3 separate regions of the Homo sapiens genome follow, and all the other regions are linked to region 3. Evidence: fine-mapped expression QTL. A gene starts in region 3. Each other region holds a variant in brackets. All regions are shown on one strand. Distances are from middle to middle. Region 1 overlaps SLC12A8 (solute carrier family 12 member 8). Region 2 holds the start of MIR5092 (microRNA 5092). Region 3 holds the start of SLC12A8 (solute carrier family 12 member 8).

The links. PIP is the estimated chance that this variant, and not a neighbour inherited with it, causes the effect.
Region 1: its variant is fine-mapped to the expression of SLC12A8 in monocytes (Quach 2016, PIP 0.95).
Region 2: its variant is fine-mapped to the expression of SLC12A8 in tibial artery (GTEx, PIP 0.92).

The regions. Positions count from the first base shown.
Region 1 is chr3:125,115,757-125,125,669 of GRCh38, reverse strand. It overlaps SLC12A8 (solute carrier family 12 member 8), which reads left to right. Exons shown (of 14, transcript NM_024628.6): 7 at 4,984-5,071; 8 at 6,814-6,901. It also overlaps the pseudogene RNU6-230P. Among named protein-coding and RNA genes, the nearest start is that of MIR5092, 31 kb to the left of the region's middle. RefSeq lists enhancers at 3,730-3,949, 4,155-4,660, 4,661-5,167, 5,170-5,219. The variant C/A (reference allele first, on the strand shown) is at 5,576.
Region 2 is chr3:125,146,643-125,156,555 of GRCh38, reverse strand. The region is part of intron 5 of SLC12A8 (solute carrier family 12 member 8); the gene reads left to right. It overlaps MIR5092 (microRNA 5092), which reads left to right and starts at 5,004; the gene lies at 5,004-5,091. RefSeq lists a silencer at 1,627-1,676 and enhancers at 1,912-2,413, 7,236-7,305, 7,326-7,515, 7,626-7,715, 8,846-8,905 and 1 more. The variant G/A (reference allele first, on the strand shown) is at 4,957.
Region 3 is chr3:125,207,206-125,217,118 of GRCh38, reverse strand. SLC12A8 (solute carrier family 12 member 8) reads left to right here and starts at 4,371. Exons shown (of 14, transcript NM_024628.6): 1 at 4,371-4,419; 2 at 5,725-5,820. The coding sequence starts at 5,770. RefSeq lists silencers at 4,290-4,439, 4,480-4,699, 4,710-4,759 and an enhancer at 4,651-5,250.

The sequences.
Region 1 (9,913 bases), 91 kb after region 3:
GTTGCCTCATCTGTGAAATAAAAGGTTGGAGTAGATGATCGCTAGGGTATCACCTAGATTTAAGAATCATGATTCTAAATAACTGTTTTATTTTTTATTTTTATTGTTTTTGAGACGGAGTCTTGCTCTGTCACCCAGGCTGAAGTGCAGTGGCGTGATCTTGGCTCATTGCAACCTACGCCTCCCAGATTCAAGCGATTTTCCTGCCTCAGCCTCCCAAGTAGCTGGGACTACAGGTGCGTGCCACCATGCCTGGCTAATTTTTTGTATTTTTAGTAGACGCGGGGTTTCACAATGTTGGTCAGGCTGGTCTCCAACTCCTGACCTCAGGTGATCCACCCACCTTAGCCTCCCAAAGTGCTGGGATTACAGGCATGAGCCACTCCATCCAGTCCTAAATAGCCAAATTTAAACAATTTTTGGAAGCCCGCCAAGAAAAGTGTCGAGACCAAATAGTAATTATAAAATGGGCACTGAGTGTTTCCCAAACTGTGCTCTGTGGAACTTTAATAATGAAGAAAGTTTTCATTTCTTTAAAAAAAAAAAAAAGGGTTCAATGCCAAATAAGTTTTGCGAAACTGTGTGCTGTATTTCTCTTCTTAGAGATGGACAATGAATATTAGCATATTATAGGCACTACAATAGCCCAGCACCGAAAACCTCTCTAATTAAGGTTTTCCCAACCTTATTTTCAATTGTGGAACTTTTTAAAAAATGTAATATTTGTAAAACACCTGGGCACTAATGCTCTGGGAAATAGTATTTGTTCTATTACGCCAACCCTAAATGTAACTCTAACCTTAATGATAGTGTTTTAAAATTGCACTGGATGCAAAAAGAAAGCAAACTAGAGAATTTCTGTGACACTTAACACAGACAGGAAAAAAATACTAAGTCAAAATAATTTTTCTAGCTCTAACTAGTGAATGAGACATTTATAATTCACCGAAGCTAGGGAACATTGCCCAAGAATTGTGTGGTAACACAGAGGTAGAATTTTGGAAATGACAGCCACAGTGTGTGAGCCCCTATAACAAATGTGCAGGCCAGGCACGGTGGCTCATGCCTGTAATCCCAGCACTTTGGAGGCCGAGGCAGTCAGATCACCTGATGTTAGGAGTTCGAGACCAGCCTGGCCAACATGGTGAAACCCCATCTCTACTAAAAATACAAAAATTAGCCAGACATGGTGGAAGGTGCCTATAATCCCAACTACTTGGGAGGCTGAGGCAGGAGAATCACTTGAACCCAGGAGGCGGAGGTTGCAGTGAGCCAAGATCACACTATTGCACTCCAGCTTGGGCGACAGAGGGAAACTCCATCTCAAAAAAAAAATCCAAACAAACAAACAAACACAAACAAATGTACACTTTGCTGTGGGAACCACCCACATTGCCCCAGCAGGAATCACCCGTGAGACTTCTTGTCTGCAGTCCGAGTTGCCTGCATCTCCTTGTTTCTGGCTCTTTGTGTCTGTGATATAATCTACTTTCTGGCTTCTCTGTTTTGTCTCAAAAGCCAAGTTTCTGGCCATATCTGGGCCTGGCTCATTCCTGTGTCACGGTCAGTCCTTTCTCCTCCCACTGAGCAGCATCCTAATGTACTGCACAACAGGCAGCCTACACAGAACCTGGGGGAGGAGTAAAGGGGGTTTGTTATGGAGACAGTAAGTGTTTGGAAGCAGGAAGCAATTAGGATGAATCAGTCATTTTCCTCCACAGAAGCATATATTGCTGTGGTGTTCTCAGGGGTCTTCATGGGTTAACTTCTGTATAAAAGATCTGAAGGAAGGTGTACAAAATGACCTGACAAACTGTAGGAGGTACAACAATGGCGAGGAATAAAGAGCACTATGTCATGATATGGTTTGGCTCTGTGTCCCCACTCAAATCTCACCTTGAATTGTAACAATTCCTATGTGTCGTGGGAGGAACCTGGTGGGAGGGAATTGAATCATGAGGGTGAGTCTCTTTCCCGTGCTGTTCCCATGGCAGTGAATAAGTCTCACGAGATCTGATGGTTTTATAAATAGGAGTTCCCCTACACAAGCTCTCTCTCGCCTGCTGCCATGCAAGACGTGACTTTGCTTCTCCTTCCCCTTCTGCCATGATTTGTGATGCCTCCTCAGCCATGTGGAACTGTGAGTCAATTAAAGCTGCCTTAGCCTCCTGAGTAGCTGGGATGTGTGTACCACCATGCCCGGATAACTTTTTTATTTTATGAAGAGATGCTGTGTGGTCCAAGCTGGTCTCAAACTTGTGGCCTGAAGGGATCCTTCTTTTTTTTTTTTTTTTTTTTCCTGAGATGGATCTCTGTCACCCAGGCTGGAGTGAGTGGCATGATATCCGCTCACTGCAACTTCTACCTCCTGGGCTCAAGTGATCCTCCCACCACAGCCTCCCAAGTAGCTGGGATTATAGGTGTGCACCACCACACCTGGCTACTTTTTGCATTTTTAGTAGAGATGGAGTTTCACCATGTTAGTCAGGCTGGTCTCGAACTCCTGACCTCAGATGATCTGCCTGCCTCGGCCTCCCAAAATGCTGGGATTAAAGGTGTGAGCCATTACACCCAGCCTCAAGTGATCCTTCTGCCTTGGCCTCCCAAAGCGCTGGGATTACAGGCATGAACCACCACACCTGGCCCTTAAATCTGTTGCATTTTTAATTTTAATGATCATATTTTTAATTTCCAAAAGTTCTTTGTTGTTCTTGGATTTTTTTTCATAGCACCTTGTTTTATAGATAGAATATTCTTCTTGGATGTACCTGGAGCTACTAATTAGTGTTTTCTTCCAAATTCTCTCTGTATCCTGATTTATGTTTCTTCCAGCCTGGGTTGTTCTGTTTCTATTTATGCGTGTATTTGTTTATTTGTTGCTGGTTTTCATCACACATTGGGTGATCTTGGTTGTGGGCATGGATTTCCCCAGCTGTCGCATGGTTAGGTCTGTCTCCCTGCTGGGGCCCTACCTTGATGAGAAGTTTGTGAGTGCTGTTGATTCTTGAGCAGGGCTTTATTTGGGGTGCAAACGTCCAGCCCTGGTTTTCCTCAGTGTATTGAGATCTTGTAGAGAAGCATTCCGAGGCTTTCTTTCCTTCTCTTTTCCTCGGTATTATATTCTCCATTTTCTATGTTCTATGTTCCAGACATTCATGGGAACCTTTCATCTACTTAGGGTCCTCCTCCCAACTTCTCTTTGCTTATGGGAATTTATCTACTTTTCCCCTTTACTATGCTCTTAATAGGATCTTGGAGAGGAGGGAATGAGAGGAAAGAAAATGTGCCTAACAGGCCGTTAAAAACAAAAACAAAAACAACAACAACAAAACCTTAAAAGTTTTCACGTTTCAAAATGATCATTGTAGAAAATTGAGAAAATATAAACAGTCAAATAAAAATGACCTGTTCTTTTATCACCCAGAAATAACATTGTTAATGTTTTAAAACATGTTCCAGTTCCTTTTTCTATATATTTTTATAATAATGGGATCATACCATGTGTTCTGTTTTCTAATATGCGTCTTAAAACTAAGCAAAAGCTTCTAAACATCTTTCCATGTCACAACATATCCCTTACAATATTCTGAGACCTAGTATTTATTGAAAGCTATATCATCACTTATTTAACCAACCCTCTATTTTTAGACATTAGGTTGTTTCTAATTTCCACTATTCTAAACAAGCGTTTATAAACACGCTGGGCTAAATCTTCCCTCATAGCCTTGACTACCTACGATGGGTAAAGTCCTCATAGTGGAGTTGCTGGGTGACAGTATATGCACCCCATCCGCGGGCCAGCATTCAGGGTTCTCTCTGAAATACACCCCCCTACTTTCACTTTCTGGTTCCAAACTGTCACTTCACTGCACTTCGCTTGGATTCTGTGAAGCATTGTAGCAGAGGCATTAAGAGCATAATTTTCAGAGTCAGACAGACCAGGGTTGAATCTTAGCTTTGCTGCTTATTAAATGTGTGACCTTAGGCTGTTTTAATTAACCTCTTTGAACACTTTTCCATAAGATGAGGAAATAATTCTACCTTTCTGATGAGGTTGTTATGAGAATTAAACAGGATAAAAAAATGCATGTAAAGCACTTGACACAGGCCCAGGCAGTTTGAAAGTGTTCACAAATCATGGAGTTAGATTCATTCCCATCCCTAAGCCCATTCAAATCCCTCTTTCAAGGCCACATTCAAGATACAACCCCCTCCACGGGTCTTTCCTGACCAGGGCAGCCCATCACACTGAGTTGTTATGGCACTTGTGGGCTGGATCCTCATCCGATGTTCAGAACACCCTGTCTTGTTGCTTTCATATATTTGTTTGTATGGGAAGAGGCAACATCCCCACTTCACCATGCAGCACTGTGCTGTGGGTCCCTCATGGATTAATTCATTTTCATTAGTGTTCTTGCAGAAGAGAGGTGATGATGAAAAGGAGCTTGTGACTCCATGTCAGTGGCATCAGGATTGGTTTTTTTGGAGTTTATTTCAAGCCCTTTGGTAGCTCAGGGGCTTGGAGGATGGTACCTGACCCCGAGGACACAGGAAGCTCCCATGGAATCAGCAGGCAGCAGAGGCAGGGAAAGCTGCTGAGCAGGAGGCTGCCAGACCTTTGTAATGCTGAGCCTCTCCAGGGCATTGTCCCAGCTCAGCAGGCAGCGCAGGACCTCTGTGTGCCTTGCAAGCCGCTTTCCTCCCCCCTGGTTGCTTTGCGCTGAGCGGTAGGATGCTTTTGGAGCTGGGAGGGCTTTCCTCCTGAGCCTCCTCCAACCCACAAAGGTGCCTTTCACGCCACAGGGATGCCTCCCTAGTTGCCAGGGGAGATTGAAAAGCAGCCTATGCGCAGAGCTGCAGCTGGAGGGCTTGCGGTGGGACAGCTTCCAGGAGAGGGTCCCGCAGGAGAGGAAGGGGCAGCCCTGGGGAAGGCGATGCGTGGAGGAGGCTGCTCACCCCATTCCCCATCTGGGTGTCTTTCAGGAGTCATGGCCGGCTTCAACATGGGGGGCGACCTCAGGGAGCCTGCCGCCAGCATTCCCCTGGGCTCCCTGGCAGCTGTTGGCATCTCGTAAGTTCCCCTCATGGCAATCAGTCTGAGCTAGAGAGTGGGAGAGAAAACCCCAGGCAGAAGAGGGATTGCCCCTTTTGTTCTGAGAGTGCCCCGACTGTGACCAATCTATTTCATATTCCGATCCTTCTTTTAACACTCGGTGGGCTGGAAAATTCACGTCTGGTGGGTTCAGACACTGCCCTTTCATGCGCCCTGCCTGGGAATGCTGCCGAGGAGGAGTGTCGGGACCCAGATCACAGATCGAATCCTTTCTTTCCTTTCCTCGGCCTCCCGCCCCCGTCCCTCCCCCACCCCCATTTTGAACTTGGGGATTTTTTTAACCACCGAGTTTCCAGGATCACTGGAGGGAGCATAAAGATGAAGAGTTTTGCAATCAGACGAATTGGGGCTGCATCTCAGCTCTGCCGCTGATTGGCTGCATGACTCTGGACAATTTACTGAGTTCTCTGAGCCTCCATTTCCTTTCTTGTGAAATGGGGATAATGACACTGTATGTGCTTC[C/A]TAGATTGCGGCGGGGAGAGAAGGCACACAGTGGAAGCTCAGCACCCAGCTCTTCTTCTTCCCCCAGTGAGCCTCCCCTCCAGCTCCCCCAGGCCGTCAGGCCTCTGGGGTTTTAGTTCACACTGTGCCACCCACACAAGCAGGCTGGGTAACCTTGGGTCTATTTCTGACCTTTTAGAATATTGTTTCTCTCTGTACCACAGGAAGAAGCTTCTCTGCCCTTCATTGGGTAGGTGTGAAGAGGCAAAGAGATCAGAGACCAGAAACAATGACTTGAGAAGTTAAAAGGGCCTGTGTTATTCTAACCACAGTATTTAGAAAATATTAATGTATCTGTTTCACAAACACTGAATTTGTTCTTAGCTTACTGCAGTGAAACCATTGCTATCAGCCTGGCGTACAGCATCAGGGTATTTTGTGCAATAACATTGGGAAGAAAATGAAGACAACAGAGATAGAGTTGAGTGTTGGGAAGGAAATAAAAGAAAGAGGCTTCTGAATGAGGACCCTGTCTTGTTTCTGGCCCCAGCTGGGAGGTTCCAGGAGGAACCCTTGGCCCATCCTCTGATTACCCAGATGGGAATGAGGAGACCACAGGAACCTGGGTCTTGTTCAAGGTTACAGGGCATCTTGGGGACAGAGCCAGGCCTCTGCTCTCTGCCTTTTGACTTTAGTTTCCCTCTTTATTATCTGATCCAAAGATAACAGACCAGCAGGACTTAGAGGCCCGAAGGATCATCAGCTTGTTCTTTTGCTGGAGGAGGCTGGGGTGTGAGGCTGCGGGGCAACCCTGGCCTGAATCCTGGCAACCTAGAGGCAACTGGGCCTCCCACTTCCCTACTCGGAATGCCCTTTGTATGTTTTTCTTTTTTAATATAAGAAAGAGAAAAAAAACTGCTCACTTCAGCAGTACATACACTAAAATTAAAACAATACAGAGATTAGCATGGCCCATGTGCAAGGATGACATGCAAATTCGTGAAGTGTTCCATATTTTTATATATATTTAAAAGTAAAAAAAGAAACAAAACAATGGTACCCCTTTTTTGGTAAGAAATATGCCAGAAGAGAAATAGTACAAAAAGTGTCCTCCCAAGCCAGCTGGGGAAGCTTCATGACTGGCCTTTCTCTCATTCTGATACAAGTTCCCTTTGGAAACAGAAGGTTGAGTGAGGGAATTGGATGGGGCTGGGTGAGGTGAGTCGGGGGCAGCTCTGTTCTGCTCTTGGGTTTTGCAGGTGGTTTCTGTACATCATCTTCGTCTTCCTCCTGGGCGCCATCTGCACTCGAGAGGCCCTTCGCTATGACTTCCTGATAGCGGAAAAGGTGAGTGAGGCCTGCGCTACTCCAAGGGCTCAGTCTGCCGGAGTCATTTATTTGTTCTCACCAACAAATGGCCACCTTCCCCTTGCAGTACTGTCTGGGAATCCATATAGTCTTTTTAAAATTTAATTAATTTATTTTTTGAGACAGGGTCTCACTCTGTTGCCTAGGCTGGAGTGCAGTGTTGCAATCTCAGCCCACTGTAGCCTCAACCTTCCAGGCTCAAGCAATTCTCCTGTCTCAGACCGCCAGGTAGCTGGGACTACAGGGGCATGCCCTCATGCTGGGCTAATTTTTTTTTTAATTTTTTGGTAGAGATGAGGTCTCACCATGTTGCCCAGGCTGGTCTTAAACTCCTGGCCTCAAGTGATCCTCCCACCTTGACCTCCCAAAGTGCTGAGATTACAGGCGTGAGCCACCACGCCCAGCCTTCATATAGTCTCTAGCCCAGGACTGAAGTGTTGGGTTGTGGTGGGGAAGAGACATGATGGAAAAGGTACAGGCCCTGCTTAGGGATTTCTAGAAACAGATAATGATGCCCAGAGGGATTCACAAATATGAGGGGCTAGATAATGGGGACATCTCTTCCTGTCAAAAATCAGGACAGAAACAGAAGAATCTGCTCACCCCAAATTCCCAGTTAAGCAAGTGCCTCACTTTTGCTAATAGCTTCACCTTCCACAATGAATCAAATGTGCTGCTCAGAAGTGGCAAGTGGAGAAGGAGGCTGGACAGGCAGACGTGGAGGGAGCGGGCGGAAGCCCAGTGCCAGGGTGAGGGCCGAGGCCCTCCTTGTCCCTCAGGTCCTTGACCCCTTTGGCTTTCCTGAGAGTCTCAGACATTCTGGGTTGATTTGGCTGCAACATCTTTGTTTCTAGAGTCTGCACCCTGCCAGGAGAAGATTAATGAATTCCTGGCATTGGCTGGAGGTCATCTGACATCAAGGACATTTATTTGGCATCCTAGAAGCCACATGAATAAGATTTCCAGATATTTTTCTGGAAATCCCCAAAAACTCCCACCCTCCTTTAAGTTCTTGGAGAAAAAGTAGACCCTGAGATTCCCATCATTTTTCAGAGAAATGTAGTTGGTTAGGGAGTTTTTCTGTGAACTCCTGAGTATCACTGCTTATATTTTATGTATTTTAAATTTTAATATTTTAATTTTAACTTTTTAAAGACAGGGTCTCACTCTGTCACCCAGGCTAGAGTACAGTGACGTGAACATGGCTCATTACAGCCTCAACTTCCAGGGCTCAGGTGATTCTCCCACCTCAGCCTCCCAAGTAGCCAGGACTACAGACATGCACCACCACACCCAGCTATTTTTTTTTTTTTTTCAATTTTTTGTAGAGACGGGGTTTCGCCATGTTGCTCAGGCTGGTCTCAAACTCCTGGCTTTGAGTGATCCTCCCACCTCAGCCTTCCAAAGTGCTGGGATTACAGGCATGAGCCCCTATATTTTAGGATAGACTACCATTTTCTCTTGGTGTGAGGCTTTGCAAAGCAGCCCTGCTGGTCTTAATGGAGGGCCAGTGCCTGGGGCAACCTGGGGCAGGAAACTCTGAATTTTCTTTTGAGAGATATGTTTGAGCTTGGTTTTCACATTAGCACAGGTTTCTTTTTAAGGCTTGTAGGCACCCATGCAAAGGTGATTATTTGTTTTCAAGGGTCTTGCCCTTAGTATAAAAGCAGATTTTTTGGAAGGCAGTACAGTTCAGTTAGTGAGAGAACTGATACCCACTTTCCAGTACCCAAGGTCACAGACCCCCAGGTGGCAAGGTTTGCTCTCAGGGCAGGAATCTATAGCCCTCATTTGTATCTACATGCATGCTTCCGTCTGAAGTTTCACTCCCAAGGGCCTGTTCTCTAGTTGTGGAATGAAAAGCTTGGCTGCATTACAGGAATTGAAGGCCTCAGGGAGCAGACTGGGTGAGGCTGGTTTGACCGAGGGAAATGCTTCCTGCTCATCTGCAGCTTGCCAGTGGCTGACCAGCTCTGCCTGCTTCTAAAGTTCCTTTCTCATGCTTTCCTTCACAGAGGTCCTTCCACCCTTTAGGGACTCTGATCTGATTATCCCCTGGGCCGCAGCTCTCCTCCCTCCTCTCCTTCCCCTGTTTTTCAAGGGAATGATCAGAGTAGGTATATGGGAGGGCAGGCAGCTTTGTATCTAAGGAAGGCCACAAACAGCAGTAGGGTAAAAACAGCCCAGAGACAGCACATGAGAGCCTTTGTGGGTGGAAATCCCACACCTAATGATAGGCACACAAACCGGGGGAGCCTCCTGTGGAATGCCACCTGTCCCGACAATGAGCAGGTAGGCAAGCACTTAGCCAGCTGGGGGCACCTGCTTCATCAGGCCCAGCAATGACACTTGGGAATGTAATTATGCACACACTGGGATGAAATGTGGAGATTTAGTTTTCGGAGAGGACAAGAGACCATTCCCTGGAAGAGACCATTGTAAAGCCTATAAAGGAACAAAGCTACTGCTCTTGGTTCTCAGTAGAAATGGGCAGGTGCAGCAAGTCAGTAAGCAGTGATGGAACCGACCCTGATGACTTCAAAATAGCAGCACCTGGGTCTTCTGGTTCCCACTACCCACCCCCTAAAGGGGACCACACAGGAGTTTCCTCCCACACCTTTTCTGCTTTCCTGCTCACTGGTGTCGCTCCTTGGGACTGACTCCGCTGCAGTAGCAGGTACCGTGCTCAGGCAGTAGATTGGGCCACAGATGTTTTTACTGGCAGTACCTGGAGAATGGGAGGGTGCAACCTACACTGGTTGGGAGGTGCAAGGGCGGAGTTTCTTTACTTTGGTCACTTGACACAACCGGCCACCCTGATAACCTGTTCACCTCAGCTTCCTGTCTTACTTGTGGCTTCAGTTCTGAGCCGGCGCATCTCTGAGCTTTCCTGGGCCTGAAAAAAGGCCTCTTCTGTATGTGTGCCCCGCGCATCACCTCTGGACACTGAGACAGGGTGGGTCTCTGACATACTCTCCTTGGCGCTCGTTC
Region 2 (9,913 bases), 61 kb after region 3:
CTTGTTAAACACAAACAAAATTATTTTAACCAATGAGAACTTTGATTGATTTTTTGTCTCGTTAGTTTATAATCCAAAACAATGATGAAAACATTTAAAAGGGTCCAAGATCCTGCCATAAGTATTTACTTTTCTCGCGCCACTGGCTACATGAGTGGGTGCACACATAGACCCATGCATGATCACACACACTGATGGCCTGGCCCTGAGATACTGGAGACGAAGCAGCCGGCACCATGTCTGGCACATGAACTCAAACACTTCACTTCCTCTGGTGAACCTTGGCCAGCCCCATCCATGATTCAGTGACGAAATGCCTTCTCACTCTGAACTAAATTCATTTGCACGGTTTCTAGCGTGCTTTGTATTTTTAGTCCTTTTCCACACATGGCCTCTCCCATTGGATGGCACACTCCCTCATCACAGCACTACAGCTCAGCCACATGCCCCGTGAGAGCATGATGAGGCAGCCGGCTGGGGTCTCTGCCTGGCCCGGGGCCTGGATTATCTCTGTATGTGGCCACCATTTGCATGTGAAAATCACGTCTGGCTCACAAGTCTGTGACCCAAACAATAGTCTCTTTCACCCTGAGCATACGGTCTAGGGATGTGAAGGGAAATTTCCCTTGCTTCTCTGAGAATATGTGCCACTTTTCTGAAAAATTAAAAATAATTGGAGTTACGAAGTTGGGTTTTTTTTTTTTTTTTGGCAAGAGTAAGCAATAATGATTAAGAAAAGTGGTTCATCAACTGTTACCCTGCTCTTAGTCCTTTCAAACTTCCTTCTTTTTTTTTTTTTTTTTTTGAGACAGAGTCTCGCTGTGTCACCCAGGCTGGAGTGCAGTGGCGTGATCTTGGCTCACTGCAAGCTCCGCCTCCCAGGTTCATGCCATCCTCCTGTCTCAGCCTCCCGAGTAGCTGGGACTACAGCTACTTTTTTGTATTTTTAGTAGAGACAGGGTTTCACCGTGTTAGCCAGGATGGTCTCGATCTCCTGACCTTGTGATCCACCCGCCTCAGCCTTCCAAAGTGCTGGGATTACAGGCGTGAGCCACCGCGCCCGGCTCAAACTTATTTCTAATAAGCCATCAGAAAATTATGTCAGATGTCTACATCAATTCCTGCATCAGAATCTCACAGTGTCCTTATCAGACATTCTTTACCAAACAGCCTCGCCGAAATTAATACTTTTTGAAACACTGAGTATATTTCTGCTTGTAAGCAGAGAAGAAAGTAAGGTGGAATAATTTATTAAGATGAGAAAAAAGTCCTGGGTCAATTCACATTGCTGTACATTTCTTGAATTTAAGATTTGAAGGTGGTGCGGTGAGCAAGGGAAGTAACACAGTAGCTTCCACCCCGCCACCCACGGTTTCACTTTCCATGGTTTCCATTTCCCGTAGTCAACCACAGTCCGAAAATACTAAATGGAAAATACCAGAAACAAACAGTTCATACGTTTTAAATTGCCCGCCATTCTGAGTAGCATGATGAAATCTTGCACCGTCTCACCCGGGACATGAACCCTGCTTTGTCCAGTGTGGCCACACCGTACACACCGCCTGCCATCAGTCACTTAGTACCTGGCTTGGTTATCAGGTCAACTGTCAAGTAGCAGAGGGCTTGAGCTCGAGGCCAATAATAGCCAAGTGCTATGTCACGATGCCTGCATCATCCGCCTCACTTCTCGTCACGTAGGCGTTTTATCATCTTACATCATCACAAGAAGAAGGGTGCATACAGCATGGTAAGCTATTTTGAGAGAGAGACGTTCACATAACTTTTATTATAGTATATTGTTAGAGTTGTTCTATTTTATTATTAATTATTGTGGTTGATATCTTCTTGTGCCTAATTTATAAATTAAACTTTACCATAGGTATGCATATATAGGAAAAAACGTGGTGTATATAGGGTTAGGTACTATCCTTGGTTTCAGGCATCCCCTGGGGGTCATGGGATGTACCCCTAATGGATAAGGGAGGGGGGATACTGTAATAGCTAATGTTTATTGAGCATTCTGTTTGTGCCAGGTGCTATACTAAGCATTATACATCTCACTATATCCTATCTATGGAGTCCCTGTGTGTTATTGTCCCCATGATAAAGATGAGATAACTGATGTTCAGAGAGGTTAGATTGCCCAGCAGTTATCCAGCTGGTAAGCAATGGAGCCAGAATTTGAGCCCTGGCTTCTGACCTCAGGGTCCATGTCCTTAACCATCAAGCTCACATTGTTTCCAGCTGCTGGGGCCGCCTGCTCTTCACTGACTGAATTAGAAAACAAGCAGGACACATAAGTCCCATGTAGGGCATGGCATTGAAAATGCAGTTTGCGAAGCTGCTGACTAGTGAAGTGAAAGGGGACGGTAGTTAAAGTATTTTGCACTGGGAGACTTGAAGCCAGCATTCTCTCTACCACTGTCTGTGGGACCCTAGGCCAGCACCCCAATATCTGTGGGTCTTCAGTTTCCCCATAATAAAACTTGATTTTAAAATTCATCATCTGGCCGGGCATGGTGACTCATGCCTGCAGTCCCAGCACTTTGGGAGGCCAAGGTGGGTGGGTCACCTGAGGTCAGGAGTTCGAGACCAGCCTGGCCAACATGGTAAAACCCTGTCTCTACTAAAAATACAAAAATTAGCTGGGTGTGGTGTCACGCGCCTGTAACCCCAGCTAGTCCAGAGCTCAAGGCCAATAATAGCCAAGTGCTATGTCACGATGCCTGCGTCATCCGCCCCACATTGTCTCGTCACATAGGCATTTTATCATCTTACAGCATCACAAGATTCTCCTGGTGAGGCAGGAGAATCGCTTGAACCTGGGAGGTGGAGGTTGCAGTGAGCCAAGGTCACACCACTGCACTCCAGCCTGGATGAGACAGTGAGACTCCATCTCAAAAAATATATAAATAAATAAATAAATACATAAATTTCATTATCTCTTAGAAGTCAGTGGGCTGCCCAGCCAGGGGCAGAACTTAGTGCGACACTTGCCCAACTCCTCGTATTTGTCTTGTACTTCCCAGCATGGGAGATGTGTCCTAAATGAAGAAGCACAAGAACATGCTATTGAGAAGAGTCCCTCAATTGCGGCCATCCTTTGGTGTTTCTGAAAGTAACAAAACAAGGCATCAGATATAGCAGAAAGAAGCACTGGTGGTAGCTGAGAGAGTTTGATAGGCAGCTACAGAAAATCCCCATACCTTGGATGTTGATGGCACGCGGTGCTGAGTAGGAAATGCAGAGGTCATTGTTTTTCAGGCTGTAAAAACCTCAAGCACAGGAATCCCATATTATTGCCGTTTTATCCTGGCATCTTGGAAAGTACCGGGCACATGGTTGGCTCTCGGTTGCACTTTGCTGAGTGACTGACTGGGAAACACACCAGAGTGGATCAGCATCCAGTGAGGCAGATGGATGGACACAGTCCTAGGAAACGTAATCTGCGCAGCTTGTGAAAGTGTGATGAGAGTTGCAGGAGAATGGAGTTGATGGAACAGATTGTCAGAGCACTGTCTCCAAAGAAGAGGAGTGGCAGGGTGGACGGAGCGCCTGGCTGCACACACACCTGTTCCGCCTCCCTTTCTTTCTTCCTCCCATCCTCCCACCCTATAGGTAGTCATCAAAGCCTACGGGGTGCCAGGAGGTAGGCTTTGGGATACAGCGGAGAATAGGATAGCGATGGTCCCTGCCCTCATGAAACAGGGAATCCATGTCAGCAATATATGCTTTTCTGATTAATGCTATCAGAACACATGCTTCTTGTTAGCCGTGTGGCTGTGGGCAAGTCACCGAAACCCTTTGAGTTTGTCCATCTGTCTAATGGAAAGAAATACCCTCCTGGAAGAGTGTTTTTTAAAGGATTAGAAATAATATGTCCAAAGTAGTTATTTTTTCTTTGAGTTTGGGGGGAGGGGTGGTTCCTTCTCTCTCTCCCCCTGCCAACTGTTTTCTAGAAAATCAGCACTTACTGGATATTGTAGAGAATAATTTTGGGGTTTTATTATTTTGAAGACGGTTTCTTCTGTTAAACTTCTTCCTGCATCCTCTTGAACTGGCAGAAATAAAAATGCTAGACTTTTAAAGATATGACACTCTAGAATCCTGATTGCTAAAAATGAAAAGCATTCTAAAGTAAATAAAATAACAAATTCAAACAGTAAATCTGTAATGACCGAATGAGCACCATTTTAAACTCACACGTACCAGAGGTGATCGTGGTATGAGGAATGAGCATGGTACATTCTGAAGCTCCTGAAGTAATCAAGGGACTTCTGTTATGGCCTAAAGCAAACAAACAGCCACCATACAAACCTATATACATTTCTATTTCTTTTCCCTCAAATTTCTACTTGAAGCAAAAGGAAAGTCACTTCTTGCTTTCTCTGCCCCAGTAACTGTGGGTGGCAGCCAGTTTTTGGAGCAGTTCTGGAGCAATTACTCTGCAATCCCAAATTCCTAGTGTATGAACAAATCTGCTCAGACATTATCAGGGAAGAAATACTGGAACCTGGATTTTAGTCCTGGCTCTGCCACTTTCTCAATCCTTGACCTTGGGGAAATCACCTAAGCGTCAGTTTCCTCCTCTAGAAAATAGAGAATAATAATATCTGCCTCACAGATTATTTAGAGATTAAATGATGTAATAAAACGTATTTCCTCAATTCCAAGTCACCATCAATTTTAATTCACACCAAATTTTCAGGTGGAAAAAAGCCTTACATTAAGTCCTCATGTTGCTTGTAAGACATCCAAATTTCAGAAAATCAAAATGTTTTTAAAAAGTTATACTCAAAATGAGCAACTACTATAAATACGATTGCCTTGGCAAAGGAAGATTCTAAATAAACGTAAGACAGTCTTGTTATCGTGGTCATCCTCCCTGGGCGGAGGATCTGCAATCTGTGCCTGGGTTTCCCTGTCGCCACCACTCTGCTAAGCAGCCGGAAGCAG[G/A]GCTGCCCCTTCAGCATTTCTCTTGAGACCTACCGCACCCCCTCACAATCCCAGATCAGATGCCAAAGCCAGTGGGGACTGGACAACATGATGAGCCCAAACCAATCCACGCTGAGCTTGGCATCTGATTTGGGATTCTCCACCTTGCAGAGAATCGGAAAGTATCTCCACAATTTCTTTTGGACCGAGCTGTTCTTCCCTTTCCATGAGTTTCTTTTACACCTGACCTAGAGCCTCTCAACCATTTTTATGTCACTGCACAGCCAGAAAATGATAATATTTGTACAGCACTCCAGGGAAAAGGGAGGAACAGTTGGGCCAAGAGGCCAATGACTTCACCATCTGGAACCCATTCAGGGCATTCCAGCGTGGCCCACCTTCTCCAATTAGCCTCCTCAATGAAAAAGAAAGAGGGGGAGGAAGAGGAAGAGAAAAGAAGAAGAAAACCCTGGTAATGTTCACTGTTTTTTGCTTTAGAATTATAAGGGCACTTTAGTTTTTCGAAGCGTCTTTATGATAATGGTCTGGTATAGTGATCAAAATACCCTTGGGCTTGAAGTGCCATAAACAAACAAGTTGTGATACTTGCGTGTGTATCAGAATCCCTGAGGAAACTTGGTGTGTGTGTGTGAGCGCGTTTCCTAATAGCCTGAGGCCCGGGAATCTGGATTGTAAGAAGTGCTCCAGGTAGTTTTTTATCATGATTTTTAAGTCAGCTCTGGGAACTACTGTCTTCGAGGCCCTTGGAAGGTTTCTCCTGGCACTCTACCTTTCATGTTCTGCATTGCTCATTCTATTTTCCCCTGTAAAGGTAGCCTTTTTGATGCAGTAGTCCAAACCTCGTCTTGCGGTGCCCTTGTATATGTGCTCAGTCCTACCCCCTAGTGTACAAGAATCGCACTGCAAGGAGTAGATAATCAGCTGACCTGTGGGACCAGAAGCTCAGCCTCTCAGGCTTGCAATGTTCTCTGAGAACAGTGTGTCTCAGCGTTTGGTTTGGAGATTTCCTGTATCGGAATTATCTAGAAACTCATTAGAAAAACAGTCTGATCCATACTCTCAAATTTTGGACTAGTAATCTACATTTTAGGTAAGCATACTGGAAATTCTTATGTACATTCAGATTTGGAAACTACTACGTATATGGGATTTACTAATCCTATTGATCTGTAAAGGGTTAATTTGACTCACACATTGTTACCTGTCTTTGACAGGCCCCTTACTGCGAAATAACCATCCATGTACACAATGGACCCCTTGGAGTAACCAGCCTTGCTTCCAATATGACTGTTGGGGTAGTAACCAGGAGAAGGTGCTTAGGCCCTAAATTCTGTCACTGAAGCCAATGGTATGATTAAAGCTCAATGTGAAGACTTGAATACAACACATCCCACCCTCATTTTAGTTTCATCTGGCAATTGAGGTGTTTTTGCTTTGGCCATTATGGGTCTCCCAATCAGAGTGGAGCTTCTAGAATAAGTATTTTTAACATAGAGTCCTTGAGCCCCTGAAGTTGCATGCAAAATTGTATGTAAATAAGTGTATTTTTCTAGGACAGGGTTCAGAACTACTGCCAGATTCTCAAAGGCATTCTTGACCTGAAGGGGGAAAGATTAAGGATTAGAACAGAGGTACTTTTCAGGGTTAGAACAGTGAAGAATTATAAACAAAGGCTCATGTCCAGGTAAGGATTTCTGAGCCTCTGCAGACCAAGCCTGACCAATTGTCCAGCATTCCCCAAAATCCACCTGCTCTCCCTCCTCTTTTCTTTGTGCCTCATCCTTTCTTCCTTTATGCTTTTCTCTCTCTGTTTTTTCTCCCCAATCCTTTTGTCTCTCTTTTTCCCCTCTGCCCCCACTTTGCCATCTCCCCATCCCTCCTCACCTTCCATTTCTTCTCTTTCTCTCCCTTCCTGGCCTGAATAGGAAGCAAAGCATGTTCTTTGACTTGTTCTACCTGTTGAATATTTTCAATATTCCACTTATTTTATGTTGGTGGTTCTTGTTTGTAAAATTATGTGAGTTGCACATTTAATATTTCTCTGGCTAGATGAGAAACTAATGCTTTAGGCATCCTTGTTCCTTGATTGTTTGGATCCAGCCCTTGTTAGAAGGCTTTCTGTGGGCAGTGGTCCCCATCACCCCTGGCCAGCAGCAGGCATGCCTTAGGCCTCCCTCTTGTTCTGAGATTGATTCTGATGAAGAAAAACTGACTGACCAGAATCCCAGACCCCTGGCTCTGAGCCCCTACCCTGATCCCAAAACCCAGCTGTCTCTACTGGATTATTCTCATTTGCTGGCTTTGGCTTGGGGATCAGAGAAAGGAGCCATGGGCTGAAGAGGCCGTGGGACCTGGTCAAGTTTGCAGAAGGAAGTGCGAGCGAGCGCTGCCCAGCTTCGACCCCCGAGTCTGCTCCCACTCTGTGACTCTGTGAGCAGGAGGGATGGGCTGGCCCGACTCCCTGGCTGGGCGTTCCGGGTATGGATGCCTGCCACATGCAGTCACCAGCTGGGGAGGGCCCTTCCACACTTCTGAGCCTCGCCCGCCTCAGCCCTGAGCAGCTGGGAGTTCCGAGGAAGCGATGGGTGACCGCTGAGGGGTGGGCCGACACATCCTGCCTGTGCCCCCCCGCTGCTGGTTTGTGTTCCTCTCACTGCACGTGGCAGGTGTCCCCTGGCTGTGGGGAATTTGCAGATTACTCTCCATGTGACTGTAGAAGCGTCCCTGAAGGCACTTCTGGCTTCACCATTTTGGGGGTACCTCCTGGGGTAGGAGGCAGGATGGTGGGTCTGTATAAAGCACAAAGTGGGATATGTGCCCTCAAGTCACTCACATTTGGGTGGGGAGCAAGGCAGCCAGCTACAGACCCAGAGAACAAGGCAGGAAGTCCTGGGCTGACAGTGGGCATGCAGAGAGTGGGCTCTGTGGTGCGAGCAGCCTGTGAGTGCTGGCCGAGGGTTGGGGGTGGGAGTGAACCCAGAGGTGGAGCTGGCAGGAGAGTGCCGCCTCCTGAGGCTGGCAGGAGATGATGCCCCAAATTGCAAATTTGAAAGTTAAATAATATACAAAGGACCCACGTGGGCCCCCCACCCCACTCTTCTCCCCACTACCCTCACTCCAGGGCCCAGACAAGGCCAGTGCTAGAGCTTCCAGGCCTGCTCGCAATCCAACTTACATGTCCCTCTTGCCTGGATCTTCATGCTCCCTGGGGACTGAGGCATGCACCTTCATCTTCAGGGACGTGTTTTGAAGAAATATTGAGGCCTCTGCCACAGGGTTGACCTAACCCCAACACATAGGTGCCCACACCCCAGGCCAGCACTAGGCAATGGGGCAGCCTCTAGACATCTCCCTGGGGATTGCATTTGCCTTTAAATCTCTGGGCCCCATAGCGAGTTGGCAAGTGGCTGTCCTTGTTGGCCTAATGTGAAAGATTGCATCACATATACTACAGTTGTCAGAGACATGGCTTTGGAGTCAGACCTCCAGGTTCAAGCTCCAGCTCAGCTATAATTTGCTGCATAGAATTGGTCAAGGTAGTTAACCTCTCTGACCTGCTCTCTTTGTTTCTGAAAAGCAGGTAATAACGCCTGCCTCGCTAGGTTGCCAAAGCATAAAATAAGATAATGTTTATAAGAGGCCTAGTGTCATGCCTGGCACAAAGTAGGTGCTCAATAAATAATCATTGTCATTATCATTGCTTGTCCTGGAAGAGTAGGTCCCTGGAGGCCCTGGGTTATACTCTAAGGCAGTGCTTCAGGATCTGGGGATCTTGTTAAAATGAAGGTTCCAATGCCGCAGGTTGGGGACCATACTTTGCATAGCAAGGTAGTTTCCTGGGGCACCTCAATCACGTTCAGTCAGGAGCAGCAGCATCCTTTCTCCTCCTCTTGCTCTCCCCTCGTGCTCTCTGGGTTGATCAGTCATCAAAACACTTCCCAGGCTGTCCAGGCAGGATGTAGGGCAGGATGTATGGTCACTGGACTCATCCAGCACCCCAGTGACTGCAGCCACCTGCGGATGAGGAGGGGATCCGGAGGGAGGAGGGAACTTGTCTCTGACCTTGAGGATTCCTAATCTGACGGGGAGATGGTACAAACACACCTCACTCTCCATAAGCGCCTGCAGAAAAGGCACACAACGGCTTGCAAAGGAACACACAGAGGCACAGGAAGGGGCCACTTCTGGTTTTCTCCTCTCAGAGCTAGAAGGCTGAGAGCAGAGTGCCCCTGCCAGCCCCACAAAGGGAAGCGGAGTGCAGCCTGAAGCTGCAAGGTCAGGTGATATGGCAGTAGCCCAGGGCAGCCCGGGTTAAAGGCACACTCACTCAAGGCCGGCTCTCATTTAGTGGCACCGCAGGTTAAATGCTGCTCCCAGGCCTTGGGTCCCAGTGACCAGGAAAGTTTTGAAAATGAGAACATGTGTTGACCCTAGGACTAGGACAACAGCGCCCTTGATTTTGCGGAAGTCTTCCCTGGAAGTTGGGCGTGCTTGATATTGAGACGCTGCACTTTGTGTTTCTTGACGGCTTTGCTGCAAATTCTCACACACCTTGCCCTTGAGTAAAACCCCAAGGATTCCAGACGTCGGCAAACTCCCGAGCACAACGGTCCTTTCCACCTAAACCCCTGAGCACACAGTGATTTCTGCCTACATTGGTGACTGGTGGTCAGATGGCTTGCTGGGCAGCTTCCCCGCCCTGCTTCTCGTGGAGGAAGGGCCTCCCTGTGGTGGGAAGAGGTGTTCCCTGTGGCAACAAACAGAGACCTTGTCTCTACAAAAAATGTACAAACTTAGCTGGGCATGGTGGCGTCAGCCTGTAGTCCCAGCTAGTCGGGAGGCTGAAGTGGGAGGATCACTTGAGCCATGGGAGGTGGAGGCTGCAGTGAGCCGTGATCATGCCGCTGCACTCCGAGGGAGGCCACAACTAGTAGGCAGGGCCTGTGGCTCTGTCCTC
Region 3 (9,913 bases):
ATTCTCCTGCCTCAGCCTCCAGAGTAGCTGGAATTACAGGCATGTGCCACCATGCCCGGCTAATGTTTTTGTATTTTTAGTAAAGACGGAGTTTTTCCATGTTGGTCAGGCTGGTCTTGAACTCCCGACCTCAGGTAATCCAACCGCCTCAGCCTCCCAAAGTGCTGGGATTACAGACATGAGCCACCGCGCCCGGCCATATTTTTCTATACAAACCACATATATGTGTGTGTGTGTGTGTGTGTGTGTGTGTGTGTGTGTGTGTGTGTGTACACTGCTTTTTAAAACAACACTATACATTATTCTTCGACTTGCTGTGTTTATTCATTATTATGTGATGAACAGAGTTCCATGATAGCATGTATAGAAACATTTAATTCTTTGCTTCTTTTTTTTTTTTTTTGAGATGGAGTCTCACTCTGCCACCCAGGCTGGAGTGCAGTGGCACCATCTCAGCCCACTGCAACTTCCGCCTCCCAGGTTCAAGCAATTCTTGTGCCTCAGCCTCCCAAGTAGCTGGGGTTACAGGCACACGCCATGATACCTAGCTAATTTGTTTTGTATTTTTATTAGAAATGAGGTTTTTAGGACGAGGCAGGTGGATCACCTGAAGTCAGGAGTTCGAGACGAGCCTGGCCAACACGATGAAACCCTGTCTCTACTAAAAATACAAAAATTAGCCAGGTGTGGTGGCTGGCGCTTGTAATCCCAGCTACTCGGGAGGCTGAGGCAGGAGAATCACTTGAACCTGGCAGGCAGAGGTTGTGGTGAGCCAAGATCATGCCACTGTACTCCAGCCTGGCAACAGAGTGAGATTCCGTCTCAAAAAAAAAAAAAAAAAAAAAAAGGAAATGGGGTTTTTATTTTTTGTATTTTTATGAGAAATGTTGGCCAGGCAGCTGGGCACAGTGGCTCATGCCTGTAATCCCAGCACTTTGGGAGGTTGAGGGGGCGGATCACGAAGTCAGGAGTTCGAGACCAGCCTGGCCAACATGGTGAAACCCCGTCTCTACTAAAAATACAAAAATTAGCTGGACATGGTGGCAGGCGCCTGTAATCCCAGCTATTCGGGAGGCTGAAGCAGGAGAATCGTTGGAACCCAGGAGGCAGAGGTTGCAGTGAGCCGAGATCATGCCATTGCACTCCATCCAGAGCGACAGGGCGAGGCTCTGTCTCAAAAAAAAAAAAAAAAAAAAAACAAATGTTAGCCAGGCTGGTCTCAAACTCCTGACCTCAGGTGATCCGCCGGCCTCAGCCTCTCAAAGTGCTAGGATTATAGGCGTGAGCCACTGCACCCAGCCCAGAAACACCTAATTATTTCTAATGCCAGCTGTCATAGTATGGCTGTACCGTTTATCTAAGCAGTCTTCTGTTGATGGACATTTAGGTTGTTCTCATTGTTTAAAGTATTACAAAGTAATGATGCAACAAACATGCTTTTCCTAGTTCATGTAGGGCAGTATCTTCAAAATGGCAATGTTTAAAGGATATGCAGGATACTATCTCTCTCTCTCTCTTTTTTTTTTTTTTTTTTGACAGAGTCTTACTCTGTCGCCCAGGCTGGAGTGCAGTGGCATGATCTCAGCTCACTGCAACCTCTACCTCCCAGGTTCAAGCAATTCTCCTGTTTCAGCCTCCCGAATCACAGGTGCCTACCATCACACCTGGCTAAATTTGGTATTTTTAGTAGAGACAGTTTTTCACCATGTTGGCCAGGCTGGTCTCGAACTCCTGACCTCAGATGATCCACCTGCCTCAGCCTCCCAAAACTCTGGGATTACAGGTGCAAGCCACCTCGCCCAGCCAGGATACTATTTTTCAACATGAGGTTTTTTGTTTTTGTTTTTGTTTTTTTGTTTTTTTAAGGTTAGTGTTATTGTTATAAGAAAAATCTACATTAAGCAGGATATATATATATTTTTCTTTGCAAAGGGCAGGTTTCTGTAGCCTTAACATGAAGAAAATAAACAACTATATTTGTTTCTGGGTTTAGAAGATGCTTATAAGCTTTGAAGGGAACTTCTCATTTATTTAGAAAATGACGAGTGACAGGAAGTAGGTGGTTATAAAGCGAGAGGTGGATTCCCCATTCTAAAGTTTTTAACTCAGGCTGATATGGAATTGAATGCAGATTCTTCAAAATTCATGTTGACACTTAGAGGGAGACTCATCGGAAGGTGACAGCAAACAGGAAACCAGCTTGAGGCAAAAAAAAAAAAAAAAGAGCAGTGTCATGTATGACCCACCAAAAGTGAATAAGAAAAATGACTCTGCTGATCATTCTGATGAATCTGTGGAAATACAGTCAGCCCTTCATATCTGTGGATTTGACCAAGGCAGGTCAAAAATATTTGGTTAAAAAAAAAAGCATGGTTGCAGCTGTACTGAGCATGTACAAAGTTTTCTTCTTGTCATTATTCCCTAAACAATACAGTATAACAACAATTTACATAGTTTTTTTTTTTTGTTTGATTGTTTGTTTGTTTTTTTTTTAAGACAGGATCTCACTCTGTCACTCAGGCTTTAATGTAGTGGTATGATCATGGCTCACTAGAGCCTCAACCTCCTGGGCTCAGGCAATCCTCCCACCTCAGCCTCCCAAGTAGGTGGGACTACAGGCATGCACCACCATGCCCAGCTAATTTTTAAAATTTCTTTTGTGGGGAAAAGAATAGGCTCTCACCGTGTTGCCCAAGCTGGTCTTGAATTCCTGGGCTCACGTGATCCTCTCACCTTGGCCTGGAGATTTGGAATTTTTGTAATTCCAAAGTGCTGGAATTACAGGTGTGAGCTACTGTGCCTGGCCTTGAATTAGGTATTATACGTAATCTGGAGATGACTTAAAGTATGTGGGAGGATGTGTGTAGGTTAAATGCAAATACTACATCACTTTATATCAGGGACTTAAGCATCTACGCATTTTGGTATTGGTCAGGGGGCCTGGAACTAATTTCCTGCAGATGCCAAGCGGTGACTGCATAATGGATTCCAGTAACGTGACTGTGTCAGCCTGTCCGCCCATTCATCCTTTGTTCACAGATGGTTAATCTGTAACTTTTGGGGGGTCTTTTTTTCTGGCAGAGATGGGTTATTAAAAATTTCTTTGCTGGGAATGAAATTCTGACACATGCTACAACATGGATGAACCTTGAGGACATTATGCTGAGTGAAGTAAGCCAGACACAAAAGGACAAGTATTGTATGATTCTACTTACATGAAATACACAAAATAGGTAAATCCATAGAGACGGGAAGTAGATGAGGGGAGTTACCTCTGAGGGTAGACGAAACGGGGAGTTAGTACTTAGTGGGTACAGAGTGTCTATTGGGGACGATGAAAGTTTTGGAAATAGCGATGATGGTTGGACAATATTGTGTGTGATTAATACCACTGAACTGTACAGTTAAAATGGTAAAAATGGCAAATATGATGTTCTATATCTTCACACGCGTCTTTGCTGGAGCAGAAGCGAGAGGTTAGGTTCTGTCAGTGTTCCCATGGCTTAGCCTTCCCTTTTGTTTTTAGAAGAACAACCTCTATTTTTAGGGATTTTCACACAAAGGCTTGTGGGCGTGGGAAGTTCTCCCAGCTGCCCTCCTGTTTCTCAGAAGCCCACATGGAAGCCTCTCAAATTATTTAAGGTTTAGGAAATATGCCAGATTGGGAATGGAGATAATTTAATCTCTCTGTATGTTAATTTAGGGTTCTTTTTTTCTGCAACATGAGGCCCTGGAAACCTTACTTCACCCCTAGGAAAGGCAGTTCTGGGTCTTGGTGAAGGGGGTAAGGGTAATTCACCCCTACACAGCATGCCCAGAGCGCTTTCCTGGCAAAAGCAGTTCCACGCCCTCAGAGTCTGGGGTCACCTGATCACGCAGCCAGGCACACACGGAGACCCCCGGTACCGGGGTCTCGGTCAGCTTGTCCAGATTCTTCTCCACATCTGCCCAGGGGGCTGCGGGTTTCCCTGCACTCCGGGCTTATCCCGGGCTTTCTCAGTCCTGCGTGCAGTGCTCACAGCCACTCCTCAGAGCCGCACAGGGTAGGCTCCTGTCCCTAGTCCCCTGGTCCCGGGGCTGGGCATTTCCGCTGGTTGCACTGTCGAGGGGGGAGAGGCAGTGGCTGGTCACTTCGAGCCTGTGGGCTTGCGGCCCCTACTCCCTGTTTTCCCCCAGCCCTGCCCCTACCCAGGTGAATGTTCTTGTCCAGGTAGGCGCGAAGGCCCGACCCTTGCGGAGGGAAAGCCTCTGCAGCGCCTCCTCGCCACCTGGGCCCGAGACTCCCGGTGCTGGCGTGGCAGGGGTGCCCCCGCCGGGACGGGACAGCTGGGACCCGCGCAGCCGAGCCGGGGCAGCCACGTGGCGGCGGGGCGGGGACCGGGCGGGCCGGGCGCTGGGAGCTGGCTGTCCCAGGAGCAGGTGAGGGCGGAAGGGCTGTGGGGGGTGGAGAGGGTGGTCTCGGGACAGTTCCTCTCCCCGGCCCGCAGTTAGGAGCCAGGCCTGGGGTCACCTTTGCCCCCACCTCCCCGCCCAGGTGGATCCTCTCCTACCGCCGGTCACCCGCGCGCCGGCACACGGGCCTGGCCCCAGTACTTGGGGTGCGGGTCCGCGTCTGCGTGGGGTGCCAAGGGGCCCGGGTCCCAGCGTGGCCCAAACGTGAGGGTAGGGGCTCCGCGGAGGAGCCAGGTGAATGTGGGCGGAGGCCTGCGGGGCGGCCTGCGGAGGCCGCGGGGCGGCGGGAAGGGCGAGCGGAGGCCTGGGGTCCCTTGCTCTGTGCGGCGCGGGCAGCCGGGGACACCCGGGTGCTCTGGCTCCCTACCTGTCACCCGGCTTTTGGCAGGACTGCAGCCCACCAAGTCCCCCAGCCTTCCCAGCTTCCCACTGGGCTAACCCTCCTCTCCCAACCCCCCACTCAGTGCTCCGGGCGCCTTCCCTCCTCGCCAGCGCTGGCTGCTGTCCTTAGTCGCCTTCTTCCCAGGAAGATCAGCTCTAACCCTCCCCCTCGCTCTCTTCCTCCCCCTTCCTCCTTCTACCAAAGGGTCCTGAGCCCCGTCTACCTTGCAGCACTGTGCTGGGGAGAGGCGCCACACAGATCAAGGGGACAAACTCCCTCCTCCCCTCAAGGAAAGCCAGGTCCAGCGCGAAGGGGAGGGTGCCTGGGGGTGGGTTGAGGAGCTGCCCTAGTCCTGTCCAGCCTTTTCTCACTCACCCTCTTCAATCTCCTACCCTTCTCCGGCCCTGCTCCAGAAGGGCCCCAAAACAGCCTCCTCATGGCCCCTCTCCCCTCTGCTCAGGGCGCAGCTACATTCACTCACCACCTGCAGCCAGGTCTAGTGCGTCATGATGCCCTCCTCCTGGAGAGAGGGGTTCACGAGGCACTTGAGGGTGGGAGAGGAGTGTGACTCTGTGTCCTCAAGGGCTGGGCAGCAGGGCAGCTGGCTCTGACCCTCACGTATTTAAGGAGCTCAGGGAAGGAGAGAGCTGGGAGTGCCTGAGGTTCTAGGGCAGCAAGGTTTGAGCACAGGTGGGCACTGAAGGACCAGCGGGATCTACCTGGGTACCAAAAAGGTAACCCGGCCAAGTTTCCAGATGAGGTAGACAAGGTTTCTTCCTCAGCCAGGGCCTCGCCTGGTAGTTTGAACAATTCTAGTAGAGAGAAAGGATGGACAACAAGGGGAGAGGAGAGGAGAAGCCAGCCTGACCAAGGATGCTGTTACCTTCCAGAGCAGTCTCCCTGTCCAGATCACCAGGATCCCTGCTTGCTGGAGAATGACCCAGATGTCCCAGGTGCAGGAGCTCTTCCATGAGGCAGCCCAGCAGGTAGGCTCAGGATGTGCCAGGGTCTGTGATGGAGGCCTGTGAGCACGGGGATCCCCAGACAGTGGGCTGGATGCAAACATTACAGCGCACCCTTTAGATGTAATTAACTCCAAAGTCTATTTTGGTCATCCAGTTCAATGAGAAAATATTATAGCCAAAATATTATAGCCATTATTAACTGTTCATATACAGAAAACCTTTGGCATTATTTGTGGTGGATTTTGAATCCTGGGATCCCCCACAACTCCAAACTCCATCCTGAGAGGTCTTCCACAGACAGTCACAGTGAGGACTCAGATAATATGAACTCATTTTAATTCTGAATCAAACCAATGTAAGAAGGTAAATTTATTTCTGAAAAAACTCTTATGTTCTGAAGCCAAAAGGATTTCTGAATGCCCTGGTGTTTGCTATTTTTTTTTCTTCTTTTTTCTTTATCTTCTCCCTGCTGATCATTAGTTACATGCATTCTGTAGATATGGAATTGAAGTGGCTCTACCCAGAAATGGAGAGCTGATCCCTTAAGAAATAATAATAATAATAAACCATACTAAAGTGTTTATCCAGAAACTATGTGCACCCAGGGTCTTTGCCATCCATGATCACTCAACATGAAGTTTTCACCATCCCTTGGGTTTCTTTCCTGCTTCTAGAGAGTGGCAGGAGGGTTTCCCAGCCTTGTAACAGGGGGACAAGCCCCATCAGAGGGGAGAGAATCAACAATGAACAAGAAACCCAGACAGAAAATGTGAGGCCCAGGAATTCCCAAAGGAGAGACAAATAAGACATTCTGAGATCTCCCCTGTGATGGCATCTGTTCCTCTCTCCCCTGTTTAAAACCTTCAGTGTCTCCTCATGTGCACCACTCAGGGCTCAAACTCTTCAGCCTCAGCCCTATACAGTCTGACCCCACCTGAGTCTCAAGTCGAGTTCCCCACATCTTCTTCTTCCTGCCACACCTTCCAGCTGAACCACACCATTCCCCAGAGCTTATATCTTTCCCTTGATCTTTGCTGATGCTTCTTATCAACAATTTGTCACTGAAACCTTCACCCAAGTATTTAAGTGGTATTTAAGTATTTAAATTGGTATTTAAGTGGACAGTAAATTTTAGTTGATTGATCACATGAACAAACAACAGAAAACCACAATGCAAGTTAAATTGTCATAAGTGCCCTAAGAGAGAGTTGATTTCTAAAATGTGATGGATACAATGACCTCTGTGTTGCCTCCTTCTCCCTTAATAGCTAAACATCGAAGGATTGGACATGGCCCAATGCCCAATTTTAAGGCCTTTGGTGTTCATGATTTAGAAATCCATCCTTTCTTTCTCTCTCCCTCCCCTGCACTGTCTTGTTAAGGTACCATTTCTTGATTGGATGATTCATACTCTCCTAAGTTCTTTTTCCACATTGCTACTAAAGTGATGCTTTTATGAAGCATAGATCTGTGCATTTGACCCCTCTGCTTAAATTCCTTCAATAGCTTCTCACTGCCTTCAGAATTCAGCTCAGACTCCTCATCTTGGCCGCCAGGGCCCTCCGTGATGGTTAACTCACCCCTTCTGTTCCACAGCATCCTGTGTCACTGCACTTACCATGTAGCATTGAAATGAGCTGCTTCTTTTCTGTCTCCCTTAAAGCTGTGAACTTAAATTCAGGGGCATGTCTTATTTATTTTTGTATCCCCAATACCTGGCATGGTGTGTTGTGTATAGAAGTTGCCCCATCAGTGTTGGTTCTACTGAACTGAACTTACCTGGCTAGGAATTGGGTGAGTTGCCATTTGCATTAAGTCTTAAAGTAATGGTGGAAGTGGAACATATGGTGGACTTGGGAAGCATATTCCAGGTGGGAGGGTGAGAAAATGATAATAGCTACCAATTAGTGGGCACTTACTGTATACTGAGCACTTAATATGCATTACCTCATTTATCTCCACTACAACATTCTGAAGTTGATATGATTATTTTGGTTTGACACAAGAATAACTGTAGCACTGTAAAGCCAGGCATGTTTGATGCCAAGTCCCAAGCTTTCATCCTTTTTGCTATGTGCCTCCTGCTCCAAATGGTATAAGCAAAGCCACCCAGATGGCAAATTAAGGACCTCTGCGTGGGAACAGAGAGTAAGTTAGGTGGCTAAAATGCTGGAAGCTGAACTCTAGGAGTGGCTAGCCCTCAAGAAATTTCCTGGGAACCTTTGAACAATTTTATTCCAGTCTTGGGGATCAGAAATTCTGCTAGGAGCTTTGGGGCCTGCAGAACACAAGATTAGGAGGCAGTGCCCAGTGGGAAGACAGGCTAGTGGGTGTCATGCCACCTTCAGTCTTGACCTGCTCTTCTCTTGGTCACGGTGATTAGAAAGTGGCTCACAGGAAGTTTGGCAAGGGTGGGGACACTTGGAAGTTAGGTGGAGGGTGAATGAATGGACTCTTGGTTTGGCTTTAATCATTTTAGGACCAGATAGGGTAGCTCTCTCTCTCTCTCTCTCTCTCTCTCTCTCTCTGTGTGTGTGTGTGTGTGTGTGTGTGTGTGTGTGTGTGTGTGTGTAGATTGGTCAGTAATAAGTGAACCAGCTGGGAAGGAGCTGTAGATCTGAGTGTTAATGGTGTGGTGGTCGAGGGTGCATGTGCTGCCTGGGTCAAGTCCTGGCTCTAATACTTTGTGACCTTGAACAAGTTTCGTAACCTCACTAAGCCTCCGTTTCCTCACCTACAAAATGACTGCCCAGTGATTGAAACTACCATAGAGAATGAAGACAATTAAAAGAGATAATTTGTGTAAATATTTGGTATAGTGCTTGGTTCCTGGTCAGCATTCAGCTTATATTATATAAATGGCTAATAATTAAACTAAGGGGAGTATGTATTTAATCCAGGGGGTAGTGGTATAAATGAGCAGAAGGATCCATTGGCAAATCAATGCATGACTCAGCACAGCTGAGTCAGGCAGAAGACATAAGGCAGGAGTCTCAAACCCAAAATCATACCTTGGGCCAACACCAGAATGTGGGACATTGTTCCAGACAACCTGCTGGGTGGGCAGTCTATTGAGGATGATGTGTGCTTTCTAGGCCTGGGTGAGTCTGGAGTGGTTTGGGAATGTGAGTGTGTGTTTGGAGACCCACCGAACTTCTGGCAGGCCAAGCCTTGTTCCAGGGGCCTCTGTCTGGAGGCACTTTGTGTGCTCTGGTGGTAGACTCAAACCTGGGTTCTGGGTTTCCCATTCTGACTGTGCTGCTGGATAGGCTGGGCCCTTGGGCAAGTTACCCACAGGCTCCCAGTCTATTTCCACAACTATGTGATGGGGTGAGTGGACCTGATTCTCAGGGTTTTTATGAGATTAAAGGAGATGCCATATGTGGAAGGGTCTGGGCCAGTGCCTCTCTCATGACAAGCACTAAGTAAAATGCTCATTTGATGATTGGATGAAGCCGATCGCACACAGAAGCCCAGCGGAGTAGGCTGTGAAACTTGGGGCTTGAAAACTAAGAAAGAAACAGCCAGTGCAGAGGGAGGTGAACAGAAGGCTAATGAGCCATGATTGGGTGCTTGTCTGTGCCAGGTACTGGACAGACAGGACTGTGACGATCTGGGTGTTTCAGGAAGACTGCGTTGGCAGGAGAAAGCAGGTAGCCTGAGACAAAAACAGATGGCAAGCTGACAAGCTGTGTGGAGGTCTGAAGTCCTGCAGAATCTCATGCTCTTAGCGTTGGGAATAGGGAGAAAACTCGGTTTCATTTACCAGGTGTTTATTGAATGACAGTTCTTGCCAGGATCCCCAGTTCCTGCTGGATATACTAAAACAAGTACAAAACCAACAGCAATCTCCTAGTTCTTATGGAATAAGAAGTGCCTCCAGCTAGCCTGAGGCTTTTGTCTTTCTTCTCTCAGGGTTGGAGGGTCTCAACAGGAACTTAAAAGGGAAGCTGGCCTGAGAATAAGTCACCAAAAACCAATATAACTAGTACACTGGATTCATGCTTTTCTGCATTCTGCTCTACCACAGAGACTTGAAGTGTAGCACTAGTGGGTCCATGTGGACCCTTTTCTAGGAGGTCTGCAGGCCAAAGTCTGGCTAATTATTCTAGAA